Homo sapiens: one gene and its partners. The protein of the gene in region 4 purifies or fractionates together with the protein of the main gene of each other region. This does not show direct contact. Each region holds a gene or a part of one and is shown on either strand. Other genes may lie near its edges.

Region 1 (3,500 bases), on a different chromosome or scaffold from region 4:
TCTACCCTCAGGATCATAGCAGAGAGGGTACACAGGAGGTGCTCATCTCACTCATCTCTGTATCTCTAGCACTGAGGACATTGCCTGGCATACAGTAGGTGCTCAGTTTTTGTTGAGTGTGGTGGGAACAGCCAGCGAGGAGACTGACTATGATAAAAAGCAGATGTGGGAAAATGAAAGCAGGAAGCAAGGGTGAGCATTTTTCTTTCTCCAGATAGATTCAGGAATTCTGGAGGCTGCATAATAGAACCCCCTTTTGCCTATTGCCACAGCATTCCCATAGTTTTCCCTATTCCTGTAGTGTTAATTCTATGTATTTCTCTGGCAAACTAGAGATATACCAAACACCCACAGAACTCTAATTTTTCCTCCCCTGAATGGTGAGGTCTTGAGTCAAAGGTCTACATGGCTGAGGTTGAATGAGATGTGCTACCCTGAGTCTATGGTCTATGTCCTTATTCAATTCTGTGAGAGATCAAAGAAGATGTAGGCTTTGCCTTCAAGGGGCTTTCAGTCTGGTAGCAGAGATTAGACACGAACACAAATGATATAGGAAAGAATATAAAATTGCTATCAATTTTTAAAAGCTATGGAAGAACAAAGGGAAAGATTAGTATTCTAGATGATGAGATAGGGCAGGACAGGGCACAACAATCAGGGATAGCTGTAAGTGGGGCGTGACATAATCTAGTTGAAGGACTGGCAAGATTCCAATTAGCAAAAATGTGAGGAAGGCATTCCACGTGGATGGACCGGCAAAAGCAAAGGCACAGAGGTAGGCAAGTACAGACTATGTTCAGGGAATGAGTCAGCTGGAACTGAGGGTATGGTAAAATAAGTTATGCAGAAAAGACCTCAAAAGAAGGGCAGCATTAGATCAAAGAGGGGCCAGCTAAAAGGTTTGGTCTTTTTTATTACCCACCCCTATAAGCAGTGAAGAGCTAATTAAGGTTTTTGAGTACAAGAAGGACATGATCAGTGCTGGGCTGTGCTCTCCTTTGAGGATAGAATCATTTCGGTAAGTTGGCATCTATATGGTTTATGGCACTGACCTGGCTGTACGTTCCCTGGTAGAAGACAGGGTGTGCCCTCCCATATTTCTCTTCAAAAGAGTGCATAAATGAAACAATGTCCCCAACGGGGTCAGTGACCCGGCTGCGAGGGTCAGGCCGTATAAAACGAAGAGCAAACCTGGGGAGGAAGGAATAAATATCACATGAATCCAGCTTACTACAGTGCATATCGAGTGGGCCAATTTGTACAGATTCCTGTAACAGAGCCAGAGGCACGGCAACAAAGGGAGGTGAACAGTCTGTGAGTGGACCATCAAATCCGAGAGTAGAGTCTGGTTCAAAAGCCATAAAGCAGCAAGTGTTATTCTATTGCCTGTTCAGGAAGAATGCAAACTACTGGGATTATAAATTCCAACACTGGCCTACATAAATCCTGAGTATTTTTTGTAGAACAATTTAGGGCTAGAAGGGTTTGGAAGGGAAGACACAGTATCCAAAAAGATCATGTGTCAGGCTATGCACCCAGACTCTCTAGAATGGCACCGTCTAAGTACTGTAGCCACTAGTCAAATGTGGCTATTCTGAATTTAAATCTATTACATACAATTAAAATTCAGTTCCTTAGTAATGCTAGCCACATTTCAAGTGCTCAACAGCCACGTGTTTAATGGCTTTCATACTGAACAGCGGAGATACAGAACGTTTCTATCATCACAGAGAGTTCTACTGGACAGTGCTCTAGAACAGAGGTCATTTTCTGGTTGTCCTACTTGCCCCTCCTTCTCCTTTCTGTTTTCCTGGGATTTTAAATATTGAGTTCACAACCCCAAACTATTCAACTTACGGATAGGAACTTCAAATCTGAAGTTGCGGTTATGACTTACTTGCTCTTCAAAGGGGCAAGTACCTTTTGCTTGATGATTTATGGTTGATGGCAACCATGGAGGAAGTTATAAAACTGCTCCACAGTACCCTGGCAGATGTGGAGTACTGGCAGCTCTTGTAAAGTGAAGAATACATACCTAATGGTACCACACATCTGTTTCTAAAGGGCCTACCCTATTTGTATAGTACCATTTATTTATCCTTTGGGTTTCCAGAGAAGGCAACAGGACAGAGGATAATGTGTTACCTAACATTAAACAAGCTGGTTGGATGATACAGCTGCATTAAAATTAGTAATACATGCCGTGCATATTTTCCCTAGAAAAGCAAACAATATTCATTTACTTAAAACGTTTTCAGCACAGACAAGGTGATTAAACTGTGATACTTTTCCTTAACAAAAAGTGAGTCAATTCATTATCCCAACAAATTCCCCCTGTGTATACAATTCTACTTGGAATTTCTCCCGAGTAATCAAACCAAATTCATTGACAACAACGTTCCAGAGCGAATTAAAAGCACAAAATGTAGTAAGTTGTATACGTGGGGGAATGGTTAGAAATTCATCAGAAGACTGATGTTTTAACTACTTTCTTTGAAATTAAGCATTTTAGAATTCTCTCTTAAAGCCTTTATTTTTTTTTCCTCATTACACAATATTCCCACGATCTACACAATTTAGGACAATCAGCTTTTTTGATTTTTTAGAAAAAAACAGAGATGTCAACTTAGTTTTCATTATGATTTTAAAGATTTTTACATGTTCATTCTTAAATAAAATGGGGATGGAAAGAGTACTAAGCAATTAGTGATCATGAAGAATGTTGCTAAACCAAGAAAGCCATTAAGTAGACAGCCTCATAAAACACCAAGGGTCCAATATAAAAGGTACTATCTGACCCTTGTACTTATGCAGCTGCTGGACCCACAACTTCAGCCTCTGCTCCCTAGAGGCAGGGTAAAGGCTGTCCCATATTTGAAGGGAAGTACAGGGAACCTGTACTTCCAGGGAAGGCCCAGACTACATATCCCAGCTCCATCTGCTGGCCTGGATGCCCTTGAACATTTAAGTTCCCCATAAAGCCTAGACATGGCTCTGGACCAGATAACCCAAGCCTGACATGCTAAGAAGTTGTGCCCCACTCATTTTCTTTTCTTTTTCTTTTTTTTTTTTTTGAGACGGAGTCCCACTCTCTCACCCAGGCTGGAGTGCAGTGGTGCGATCTAGGCTCACTGCAAGCTCCGCCTCCCGGGTTCACGCCATTCTCCTGCCTCAGCCTCCTGAGTAGTTGGGACTACAGGCACCAGCCACCGCGCCCGGCTAATTTTTTGTATTTTTAGTAGAGACAGGGTTTCACCGTATTAGCCAGGATGGTCTTGATCTCCTGACGTTGTGATCCGCCCACCTCAGCCTCCCAAAGTGCTGGGATTACAGGCGTGAGCCACAGAGCCCGGCCAGTTGAGCCCCACTCATTTTCTGGCCTTGGACCCTCTGTAGCTTCCAATGATGAGCTCTTTTAATGGTACATGAAGGAAGCTAGAAGAAAGGTGAAGGTATGAAGCAAGTGGGTATATACATAAAAGGGTTCCAGTGTTTGCAAC
Region 2 (3,500 bases), on a different chromosome or scaffold from region 4:
GTGAATTTCTATCTTCACGTGACCATCCCCCAAATGACTGAGAGTTGATTACACAGCAGGGTTTTCAAAGAAGGCCCTAGTTCTGACTCTTGCGTGTTTGATCAGGAAGGGATAATAGGCCGGGCATGGTGGCTCACACCTGTAATCCCAGCACTTTGGGAGGCCGAGGGGGGTGGACTGCCTGAGATCAGGAGTTGGAGACCAGCCTGGTCAGCATGGTGAAACCCTGTCTCTACTAAAAATACAAAAATTAGCCAGGCGTCGTGGTGGGTGCCTGTAATCCCAGCTACTCGGGAGGCTGAGGCAGGAGAATCACTTGAACATGGGAGGTGGAGGTTGCAGTGAGCCGAGACCATGCCATTGCACTCCAGCCTGGGCAAGAAGAGCAAAACTCCATCTCAAATTAAAAAAAAAAAAAAAAAAAAAAAAAGGAGGGGATAGATTTTAAAACAGTTTTGTGAAACTTTACAAAAAAATTTACATCTCACATTGAGATGAACCACAAGAAAATGAATTTTAATCATTATGGCTTCATTTCTCCTCAGGAGAGGTTTTTTTCAACGAGCCAGTAGCAGTTGAGGAATGGAGGACCACTTCTCTACTAGCCAGGGTTGTTCATCTCATGGTCAGATGCTCTCCAATGTTACAACAGTGTTACATTTCACAAAACAAGCACAAAATAAATACACAATAGTTAAAATCATGCAAGAAAATAAAAGCATGCAACATCAGTCCACCGCCAGCCAACTGCATTAGAAGTTCCAGTCCACATTCTGGCAGTTTCCAAACAGACAAAGAAAGAAAGAACCCCGGAGGACTCACAAATAGTGCTCTATAGACTGAGGCGGTATTTTCACAAAACACTAGTCCCGACGCTCGCCTCTCTTTTAAGTAGCCACACCCAAAGTTTCCCTCGTAGATGCCCTTAGGGCAGTGGAGCCAGGGGAGAAAGCAGAGAACGGTGGATTGTGGTCAATGAGAGCACCAGGAGCACCACAGACAGTGAGAGGCAGAGCCAAAGGATCCCAGAGCTCGCGGGACGCCCCTTAATCCAGCGCCAAAGGATCCCAGAGCTCGCGGGACGCCCCTTAATCCAGAGCCAAAGGATCCTAGAGCCCGCGGGACGCCCCTTAATCCCGCGCCAGGCACCCCGCGGCTCTGCAAAGATCCTTTGCTTCTGATGGCCACAGCACATTCCATGCACAAAGTGCCCTTTTAACAGAAGATCAATACAGTCTCTCTGGGTTTTTTTTTTTTTGTTTTTTGTTTTTTTTGCTTATGTGACATTATTCAAATTTCAATTTAATGTGACAACACACACAGTTCTAAAGAGGCCTAACCTTTTGTAGTCAATTCACTGATACTATTCTCTCTACCCTAAAATAGAAAACAAATTCACTTCCATCAGGCATTATGGAAGCCTTTACAACAAACATTACCATGGCTAAAAGCAAACAATTCTACTGTATAGAAATTCTGTGGAAAGATTAAATACTTAATGAAATAACTTTTTCCAAATTGAAATTGTAACAGGTAAAGTCACAGACTTTAGACTGGAAGACTGATCAAAGGCTAAGGTAAATAAGAGAAATGTAAGAATTCTTCTAAGAAGTTAAAATCGGTCAAGAAAGCTTCATTGAAATAAACAGTGCAATTATATACAATTACATACAACAAAGAGTACAATCACATCCTCCCAGTATGAAATATAAGTGATCAATCATATCTTAATTGTAGGTAACTTTAAATAAAATGCACGGGTGCACAAGTATTTACTTCATTTCTGTGCAAAGCTCAAGGAAATGCACAGTTCTCAGAACGTGGAAGGTGCTGGAGGAAGCCAAGGGCGTGCATATCGTGAACTATGAAGCGTAGTCTGACCACGGCAAGGCAAGACTACAGGGGATCGAGAGGCCGATAACTGAGGTCCAGGATGTGTGTCAAGAAGTGAGTTAAACGCTTCTTTGCCTTCTTGTCTATCTCCCTGGTAAACACTGACAAAGGGAGAAAAGACACAGGAAGACGATTTATGTACAAATGCACTTGGGTGGATGAGTATTTACTGTGGAGGAGGAATTATGCAATGAACAACTTGGGGAGGAAAGAAACTTCTGCACCGCGTGGCAGCAGTCTTTCTTCCAACAAAAGCGGCTGTGGACACGATGAAATAAACACTGAGTGCCTAGTCAGCAAGTGTATGGGCACTCTAAAATCATCAAACAAGATGACATGACTAAGGACCACACCACTATCCTCACTAGCAGGGTTTAAGGTAGGATGACGGGAGAGCACACTATGCCTCACAAGATGGAATTAGTAAGATCTTCCTTTTCTGTGGTTACGGTTATTACCTATAAAACAACATTTTACATTTTTTCTCTACGAATGAACAATTCTGATACAAACAAAAATATATGCTTCTAGGCACAGAGTGTCTTGTATCTGGCAGTAGGTCATTCCGAGACATGGCTTCCTTTTGTTCTGCGAGAAACATCCCAGGCACCCGGAGGCCAGCTCGCTTGTGCAGCAGCACCATTCTGCCATCTGATGCCCCACGGATCGCCAAGGCCCAGCAGCTCACGCACGGCCCTGCGACAGCCATGAGGAATCTGCATTTTGTAATCAGAGCTGCTTCATTTTATTCCCATTCCAAAGAGAGACAATTTCCATCCTAAGGCAACTAAGTTTTAATGCTTAGTGATTTTCTAGAGAGTTAACCTCTTCTCCTAACCACTATTCATCTTCTTTTCCTATGTACTGCACAAATCCAGCTAAATGTGTAAACAGAAATGTATGCACTCCCAGAGCAAACACTAACTTCTCCCTCTCCACTGCCACTCTCCTGCACTTGGACGTGAAGTGAAAACACAACAAGAAGAGAACAGGTGATGCAGAGTGCTGCACAAAGCAGTGGTTATAAGCAAGAGCAGCTGCTAGGAAATACGCACCCACAGGTGTTACCACTGTGTTACCTACCGGAAGGTTCCTTGCTGAATCCAAGTACAAGATCAGCAATGCAGAGGAAAGACCATCGTTGGCTTGGTCTTTGTCAGCTTTGATGTCTGTTAGCACCTAAAAGGAAAGGAAAAAGCCCTTAGCAGCCATGTTTCCACAGGATTAGATACTATTTCTATCTGATTGTATCATGTTGATTACGCTAAAAATAAGAAAGGTGAGAAACCATCCAATCCATGCAACAGAGACAGAACTAAAACAATAAATGCCTTTTAAATAACAAGACTACTATTCCATATATAAGTCAATTAAATGAAGCACTCAGGTGATTTCTGGCTCTACAAATCCCTGCACTTTAACAAGCTCAAAACTGAAGATCTGATAAAACAGGTATGAAGGACCTATAAATTTCATTTTAAAAACTCCATTATCTTTAATTTATCCCTGATGCTACTGTAGTGACTTATTACACAATAATGAAAATTACTGCTATAATTGTTAAAAAATCAAGTAGCAACACAACTGAGAGACCAAGCTCAGTTATG
Region 3 (4,051 bases), on a different chromosome or scaffold from region 4:
TGGAAGTGTTATTGGGGGTGGCCATCATGACCCGTCACGTGACACTAGGCCATCCAGGACCTGTGGCCTCTGAAGTGATGGGAACCACTGAGGCTCATGCCTGGAGCAGTGGCCCGACTCAGCCTATGCTTCAGGATGATCTGTCTAACCACAGAGTAGAGGAGGCCCAGAGGATGAAGGCTGGAGGCTGCAGGTGAAAAGGTTGACGCCAAAGTCCAGACAAAGAAGGGAGAGAATCTAGGGGTGAGGGGGTGCTTGTAAGGAGCTGCCTCAGAGGCAGGAACTGGGACGTGCACCCATTGGGCACCACGCCTCTCTGTGCTTCACAACAAACTGGCACATCCCAAGGCCACTGGAAGCCCTGCTGGGCCATCTCCCCAAGGCCAGTGCTGTACACATAACCCTACAAGACCAGTTTCCTACACATAACCCTACAAGACCAGTTTCCTACACATAACCCCAGATCCCTTGTCCTGTCTTCTCAGTGGGGCTGGAGCAAGTCAGCAGGTGCCACTTTCTCCTGCCTTGTCTCTGCCTAATAAAATGCGTCTCAATGTTTTACACCTGCCATTTAGCATGGACTGCTTTAACACCTCAAAAAGGCCTGTGGAGGAGCCTATAATCATCAAGGAGGAATTCCCAGAATACAAAATAACACTAGCGGCTGATAACAACTCTAAAAAATAAGTTTGTGTAATAATGGGGGTGAGAAGAGATCATAAGGTTATGTAAATAAGGTGAGGTTTTGAGTTCAAAGGAATTCTCTGGTATTTTTCTGTGTGTGTACACATGCACCCACACACTTGTGTGTATATGTGTACAGACATATATAAACACATGCATATAATGTGTATATATGCATTACATATATGCACATTCATACATCTTTATGTACAAAATACATATATGTATATATAAACACCGATGTACAAACACATACGCACACATCTATATACATACACATGTGTGTGCACATATACACATACCTGCATATACACACATTTCGTGGGGTGCGGAGAGTCACTTAAAGGCTGCAGGGCCATAAGGCTTCCTGCTTGACTGATATTCATTAATGTTTGCTGAATTACAGCAAACCTTTGCTGTGCCCATCCTGTTCTTTATCATTGACCATTGCTCTCAGGAGTTAATGTTTGAACCTGGCCATAAAGGAATCAACAGCTGCTGACCTCTGGCCGCTATTCGAAGGGAAGGGAGCCCCCTATAAAACAGCCTACAGTGGACAGTCTGGTCGGCAGAGCCGCAGGTCAGTCGTGAAGAGGGAGCTCTATTGCCACCATGAGTTTCTCCGGCAAGTACCAACTGCAGAGCCAGGAAAACTTTGAAGCCTTCATGAAGGCAATCGGTGAGTGCTGGACTGAAAGGCAAAGCTGTGGGTCACATCAGTGAGGGTCTAGCTCTACCAGCAGTGGCTATTTAGGGTCCAAATGTTGAGATGGGGGGAGAGATTCAGGCTATATACACAAACTAGGGGGCATTTTACTGACTTCTGGAGTTATTTGCAGCAAGTCCTCACTGCACAAGGCCACCCCATAGGCAAGTGGAAAGAGCACTGAACTAGGGTGTGGTCTGGATTGATGGCCATGTCATTGGCACTTCGTTGTGTGATCCTATTCCTGCATTTATTCATTCTTCAAACAAACAGTGATTCAAGGCCAACCACACACTGAGCACTGTGCTGGATAGATACCAGGGAGACAGATGATAAAGGCAATAAGGCATTTTCTTATCAGGGAAGAGAAGAGAAGAAATAAAGGTAATAAGGCATTCCCTCAGGTGTATGGAGCGCTGACTGTGCCAGGCGACTGTGCTGACCATGGGATATGCAATACCCCATCTATTCCTTGCCAAAAAACTAAGCTGGGTACCATTATTTTCCCACTTTACAGTTAATGCAACTGAAGCCCAGAAAGGTTTAGTAATCACAAGCAAGGTCATGCAAGTAGGAAGTGTTTAAGTTAGGATTGGAAGCAGGCACTGGTTCTCAGAGACCCTGCTTTAACCCCTGTGCCTCCTAGGGTCATGTACAGGAGGATGTGGCTCACAGAGAGCATGGGGGGATGGCTCAGTGGAGGTAAAGAGAAGGCTCAGGCTGAGCTTTGGAAGACAGGTGTCTAGGGAACTGGGGGCAGGGAGCATGCTCCAGGCAGAGGGAGCCCTATAAGCAAAGGGTGTGGCATGGCAAGGGAGGGTGCCAAGAATGAGAAGGGTGCTGAAGACAGCAGGGGCAGGGAGAGAAGGACCTTCAGTGCTGCCAGAGAAGGATCTTCTGCAGGCAAGCCATACCACCTCTGTGTCTCTCATCTCTCCCTCATGCAACAGGACCCTCTGTGCTCACTGTCCACCCACAAAATTTTTGTGAACCTCAATTTGTATAACAGCATAGACAAGTTCTGAAACTGGTAAAGCTCTATCCCAGGGCAAGGGATTGCTGGTATGTCTTCCTCCAGAGCCTTGACTGCAGAGGTGGACACAGGCTTGCCTGGCACAGTGCCGCTTTGTGTATGTTGGCCTGGCATGATTATCAGCAGCTCCCCTTTCACTTGCAGGAGGGACCTAGCTTGGAAGATCAACTCTCTGGTCACCAGGGGTATGGGGAATGAAATGCTCACACTCCAAGAGCAAAGTCATCAAAGGAGGAGGGAATGAGGAAGGAGAGTGAGCAAGAACCAGGGTGCTTACAAGAGGAACGGTTCTTCAGGCCAGAAGAGTGTCCTTTTTATAAATTGACTGGCAAGATAGCAGCAGGCCAGGCCAGGTCACTGTCCCTTCCTTTCTGAGGCCACAGCCGATGCTGCTGACAAGCCCCCAGTGAGTTTCTGTGGCCCCTTGGGAGACACAGTGCCCTTCTCTGTCCCTCCATGTCATGTCGTTTCTCTCACCTACCTACCACGGTCATGAAACTCCCACCTCTGCCCATATCTAAACCTCAGACGGTTTCCACCAGGTCTGCCGGAAGAGCTCATCCAGAAGGGGAAGGATATCAAGGGGGTGTCGGAAATCGTGCAGAATGGGAAGCACTTCAAGTTCACCATCACCGCTGGGTCCAAAGTGATCCAAAACGAATTCACGGTGGGGGAGGAATGTGAGCTGGAGACAATGACAGGGGAGAAAGTCAAGGTAGGAGGGCATCCCTTCTGCTGTCAGAACTTTCCTTGGAACCTGGCCCTGGGACCTCATTCCTCAAGGCTCAAACCTCACAATTCCACCCACAGATACCATCTCTGAACCCACCTCCCATGTGGGAGAAGCAGAGAGACAAAGGCAGCTCTTAGGGAAGAATCTTATAGAGAAGCTGCTCTCCTCTTCCCAGGGACTGTCTGGGGGGTGTTCCAGCCCCTAAAGTCTGAGCTCTCCCATATGGAGGATATGGGAGAACCAGGCATACAGCAGGATTCTAAGTCTCAGGTTCTCCCAGGCCCAGTGCTCCTAGCACTAAGAGTCCTCTAAGCAGGGCCCAGGAGTGGGGCAAGTGGGAGTTTGTGAAAAACCCTTAACTGAGCCCAAAGTCAACTGGCCTTCACTGAACCTAGAGCTGGTGGTGATAGGGAGAGACTTCTTGAAGGAGGTGCTAGCAATACCAGAATACCAGGGCCCCAGACAGGTGCTCAGACCCTGCCTTCAGGGGTGGTCACAAAGTCTCTGGCTTCAGCCACCCCATCTGTAAAATAAGAACAGTCAACCTCCCTAGACTGAAGGCAGTGCAGGGCAGCATCACTTCTGCTGGGCACAACTCATGGTGTGCAATGACAGCTGGGGTGTGGGCTGTGTGAGTGGTTGGCAGATGGTGGCAGGGGGATCCTGGCAATGGGGGTGCCCGTCTCCTCCTCCCTCTGAAACACTCCATGCTCTAGCAGCCCTCTTCTCTCCTCCCCGTGGACAGCTCTGTTCATTGGGCTGGGCGTGTTTGCTTTTTATCTCTTCTGGTCACTCTTTATTTCTGCCTCTCCAATTAGAACATTACAGGTCAGGATGATTTTAGGAGGATAATATTCTTGATGTGCTCATGGTCAAGGGATTTAACTATGGGCCT
Region 4 (4,648 bases):
TTGGCCAGGCTGGTCTCGAACTCCTGATCTCAGGTGATCCACCAGCCTCGGCCTCCCAAAGTGCTGGAATTACAGGTGTGAGACAGCACACCTGGCTGCCAGCTACTTTTTAAAGACCAAACATGAAGGCCTTTCAATGTTCCCCACTGCCCGCAGATTGAAGTTCAAGCAATCACACAAAACGATTTTCCTGATACAAGCCCCAATCTATCTTCCCAACCCCTTTCCCTGCCACTCCCTACCTGTATTCTACAGGTCCAGGCACACGGTTCTCTCTTCCCAAGTTTCTGCTCTTGCTGCTGCTGTTTCTAAATCCACCTAGAACAAGTGGCTTCCTCCATCTTGACCAGAACTGTCCATCAATCTTTCAAGACCTAGCCTCTCATCCAAGAAATTTACTTCCTTTTATTCTGGTAGTTTGGTGAATTGTATTATAATGACTTGTTTGCTTATTAAACAAATATGAGTACCTACAATGGGCCAAGCTGACTGCCTCAGTAGAAAGGACGCATCGTGAAGACAGAGACATCGTCTATTTGCATCTGCTTTGGCTTCCTTCACTGAAAAGCCACAACAGAGTTGGGTTCATATCCTGTCTTTGGCACCTTCTAGCTTTTTTTTTTTTTTTTTTTTGATACGGAGTTTTGTTCTTGTTGCCTAGGCTGGAGTGCAATGGCACAATCTCGGCTCACCGCAACCTCCACCTCCTGGGTTCAAGTCATTCTCCTGCCTCAGCCTCCCGAGTAGCTGGAATTACAGGTATATGCCACCACGCACAGCTAATTTTTGTATTTTTAGTAGAGATGGGGTTTCTCCATGTTGGTCAGGCTGGTCTCGAACTCCCAACCTCAGAAGGTCCACCCACCTCAGCCTCCCAAAGAGCTGGGATTACAGGCGTGAGCCACCGTACCTGGCCGCTGCCTGATTTTAATCAAGGGACTTGAAGCTTAAGTTTCCTCATCTGGAAAATGGGGATAATACTATTTCACAAGTTTGTTTAAACACAAGTTCCCAAATCCAGCTGAACGTCAGAATCAACTTCAAAAGTATGTAGAATGGGAATGAGCCAAGATACCTGCATTTTTTTAAAATCTCAAGTTTAATGCTTATGTATAGCCAGATTTTAAAAACCGTAAATTGGAGGCTTTTTCATAAAGTACCTGGCACATTAATGCTCAGTGCCCAGGTGTGCCCCGAACACGGCGTTCCTACTGGAACAAGCAGAGTTGATGTGAGATAAGGGGACCGTACGGGAAGGAGCCTAGGTTTAAACCACACATATAAATCGTGGGAAAGGCTGGGCACCGTGGCTCAGGCCTGTAATCCCAGCACTTTGAGAGGCCGAGGCAGGTGACTTGCCTGAGCTCAGGAGTTTAAGACCAGCCTGGGCCACATGGTGAAACTCCATCTCGAACAAAAATACAAAAAATTAGCCGAGTGTGGTGGCACACACTTGTGGTCCCAGCTACTCAGGAGGCTGAGGTGGGAGGATCATCTGAACCTGGGAGGCAGAGGTTGCAGCGAGCCGAGATCATGCCACTACACTCCAACCTGGGTGACAGACTGAGATCCTGTCTCAAAAAAACAAAGAAAGAAGAGACAGAGAGGGAGAGAGGGAGAGAAAGAGGGAGGGACAGGGAGGGAAGGTGGGAGGGAGGGTTAAGAAAGAAGTAAACACAGGACATGGTATTCCTGGCCAATTCTGATCACCAGTCACTCTGGAAGGCAAACAAGTGAACTGCCAGTAAACCCATTTGCTCAGCCCAGCCTTCTAAGAAAAAAACAGTATAAAGTCCAGAAAGGAGTAACTTCTTTCAAAGGTTAGTTATTCAGAGTGTTAAGTTACTGCTGAAAGTGTAAGAGGGGCAGGGACCTCAGAAACAGAGTTGGCAATAAACGAAGATGTTGGCAACTGCAACATTGCCTATTATTAGATCCATGTCATTCAAAAGGTAGCTTAGAACACAATGATACTGGCAATGTGTCCTTCTAAATAAGCGGGATCTTTTTCTATTGCTTCAGTATTTCCCCAGTAATAGAAGAGGGACATACATACAACCTGCTTCCTGTCACCTCACCTTGTGATGAGTGAAGTTGGCCTGTCGAAGGCCCAAGATACAGACTGGGATGTTCACCCTCGAGGAAAAAAAAAAAAAAGGGCTCAGGAATGTCATGGCACCTGCTATCTAGTCTGTGTGTGCCTTATGAGGAAACAGGATTAAACTAATTTTATAAAGTTCCAGGGCTCAGATCCATGGGTAGAAGCTATAAAAATGCCATAAAGCATGCTACAATCAGATATGACTCCTCACTCAAAGTTAGCAAGCATCCTCCTTCATTAAAATGAAAACCCAGGAATTCTGCATCCAGGAATTAATCCAGCAAAAAATACTGGGTACTTCCTAAATGCTCTTCAAGAGATAATTGGTTACACAAATTATGTGATATCTAAGAGACAGCAGAGCAGGGACATGGAAACTTAACACAGACAACCTTCAAGTTGCACATTTTAATTTACAATTTTTACCAATAAAAAGGATTAGTTTACAAAAAGGGAAGTCCTTTATACAAAATAAGGATTTTTTTTTTCCATTTGTAAAGAGAATCCACTGTCATGTTTTGCCTTGTCAAGTCAAAACTCAAATAGCTTGTTTTGGTAAAATTATTCCAGAAACATAATCCAGACAAAATCAATAACGTCATCAGCTTCCTAACCATGTTTAAGAGGAATAACTTCATGAACATTTTGCCCTGAACTGAAGAGTTCTAAATACTTGTAAACCTTTAGGAAAAAATGACTGCTCGCAGGCAGCTGACTGGTAAGAGGGTACACCAGAGACTCCGGGTCACTCACTGTCAGAATATTCTTATACATACAATGAGTCTCCACGCCTGTACAATGAGTGTACGTGCAACATAATTGGAGTAATGGCCTCTAAAATTTTACAAGTAAACTTTATTGTGGCCACAGATGAACAACAAAACATGACAGTTAAGGTTCAGACTCTCCCCACCTATTTTATCATATAAATTAAATATGGAGAGGTACACACAAACTCTATTCAAAATGAGAAGTTGTTTGCCAACTCTCATTTCCTAGGATAACACACATCACACTGTTTAAGAGTGGGGGAAAGAATAGTCATACTGTTAGAGCACAATGTTTCCTGAAAAGAAACTGATCAAAACGTTTGAAGCCTTTTTAGTTGCCTCAAAGTGTGACAGCCACTCAATACTGCTCCTAACAGTCTGCTTTCAGATAACGTCATAAAATAAAATAACTGTGTGAAAAGCCATGGCCTTCAAAAAACTTTATTTGGTTATGAGCCAAGCTCTGATAGGAAAAGCCCACCTACGAAAAAAAGGTGTGGGTATTTAAGCTGGTCTGATTCACAGAGCTTGTACATTCATGACTCAAAATAACACACCCTCAAACCCAAATGATTCTAAAGCCATTTCAACCTTAAATCATGTTATTCCCTTAGATGTGCTTACATTAGCTTTAAAAAATGATCTACGTGCAGAGAGGAGCTGCGCCTTCCTCACAATTAATTGAAACATGACCAAAAAACGGGGGATAGGCAAAAAAGTGACATTTAAATAGCGTATGAGGGTCTCTCCTCCTTTACTCAATGAACACATATCCAGAATGAGATTGAAATGGAATCAATGCCCAGGAGCCTCTCAAAGAGAGCATCTCCCTGTAGCCAACATGATCTGGATCCTCCTAACACAAAGCAACCCAACTACTCCAGCTACACAAAGCCAGTAGGCCTACATATGAAACGCAAAGGGGTTGCATCCCCCATGGTTTAAACCTAACCCATGTTAGCTGCAACTCCACTACAGTCTTGATCACTTAGCTCAGGAAACAAACACCCAGCAACAACCCTCGTATCTCATTAATACCAATCTGTGGCCCTCACTGACTCAGTGGTACTTTTTTATAAAAATATCTGAAGAAGTGGCAAACGGTTACAACGGATGTCAGGTCGAAGCAATTCCAAAAGCTGAGAAAACGCTTCATCCGCTGCTTGTCTTCTCCCCCTATTGCTACAGTTCTGCCACCAAAGGGGGAAAATTACGTGAATATGATTGTTGTGACCAAGCCTTGGCAAAAGTCAATAAATAACAGAACCTGTCAAGGGCAGAGCAATTTTATGGGCAACCTCTTCTAGTTGCAAATGTGGGGGTTGGGAAAAGTGGGAGAGAGGCATGTGTGCAAGAAAGAGATAAGGGTCCTTTTGGGAAGGGTTTGGTGACCCAGCCCCAGCTCAATGCCAGCAGACTAGGACCCGCTAAAACCCATTATTCAGACGGAAAGGGGAGAAGAGAAGACACCAAAAAATGTAGTCAGTTTTGCAATTTGCACAGTTGGTATTTGTTCTTCACAGCAGTAAGGACTTGAATGAGAATCGTGAAACTTGTGGAACACTTATATTTTTCTTCGGGATTTAAGAAACTTTGTCTCGTACTGAAAGACTACATTCAGTGTGGGTCAGGTCCAACAGTGTTAGCCAGAACGCAGTTGTTAAGTGCACCCAGCACTGGGAGGAAATGTGGCTTGAGAGGAGCGGCTGCCCGAGGCCGCCCCTTCACTGGTCTCCAAGTCGAAAGCCCTGGCCCCAGTTGTGTCTCCCGCCTCCGC

Evidence for each region.
Region 1: the proteins of DERL1 (region 4) and FAF2 purify together in Homo sapiens (affinity purification with western blotting; 4 studies listed by BioGRID and IntAct, with this or other methods). This does not show direct contact.
Region 2: the proteins of DERL1 (region 4) and ESYT2 purify together in Homo sapiens (affinity purification with mass spectrometry; one large-scale study listed by BioGRID and IntAct). This does not show direct contact.
Region 3: the proteins of DERL1 (region 4) and FABP1 purify together in Homo sapiens (affinity purification with western blotting; one study listed by BioGRID). This does not show direct contact.

What each region holds. Positions count from the first base shown.
Region 1 is NC_000005.10:176,489,885-176,493,384, reverse strand, and holds part of FAF2 (FAS-associated factor 2), read right to left. Parts: intron 1,192-3,500; coding exon 1,053-1,191; intron 1-1,052. UniProt on the Homo sapiens protein: Plays an important role in endoplasmic reticulum-associated degradation (ERAD) that mediates ubiquitin-dependent degradation of misfolded endoplasmic reticulum proteins.
Region 2 is NC_000007.14:158,756,510-158,760,009, forward strand, and holds part of ESYT2 (extended synaptotagmin-2), read right to left. Parts: intron 3,073-3,500; coding exon 2,977-3,072; intron 925-2,976; coding exon of another isoform or gene 655-924; exon of another isoform or gene 496-654; intron 1-495. UniProt on the Homo sapiens protein: Tethers the endoplasmic reticulum to the cell membrane and promotes the formation of appositions between the endoplasmic reticulum and the cell membrane. Binds glycerophospholipids in a barrel-like domain and may play a role in cellular lipid transport.
Region 3 is NC_000002.12:88,125,263-88,129,313, reverse strand, and holds the start of FABP1 (fatty acid-binding protein, liver), read left to right. Parts: upstream 1-1,251; 5' UTR 1,252-1,296; coding exon 1,297-1,363; intron 1,364-2,965; coding exon 2,966-3,138; intron 3,139-4,051.
Region 4 is NC_000008.11:123,010,852-123,015,499, forward strand, and holds the end of DERL1 (derlin-1), read right to left. Parts: coding exon 4,596-4,648; 3' UTR 2,319-4,595; downstream 1-2,318. UniProt on the Homo sapiens protein: Functional component of endoplasmic reticulum-associated degradation (ERAD) for misfolded lumenal proteins. Forms homotetramers which encircle a large channel traversing the endoplasmic reticulum (ER) membrane.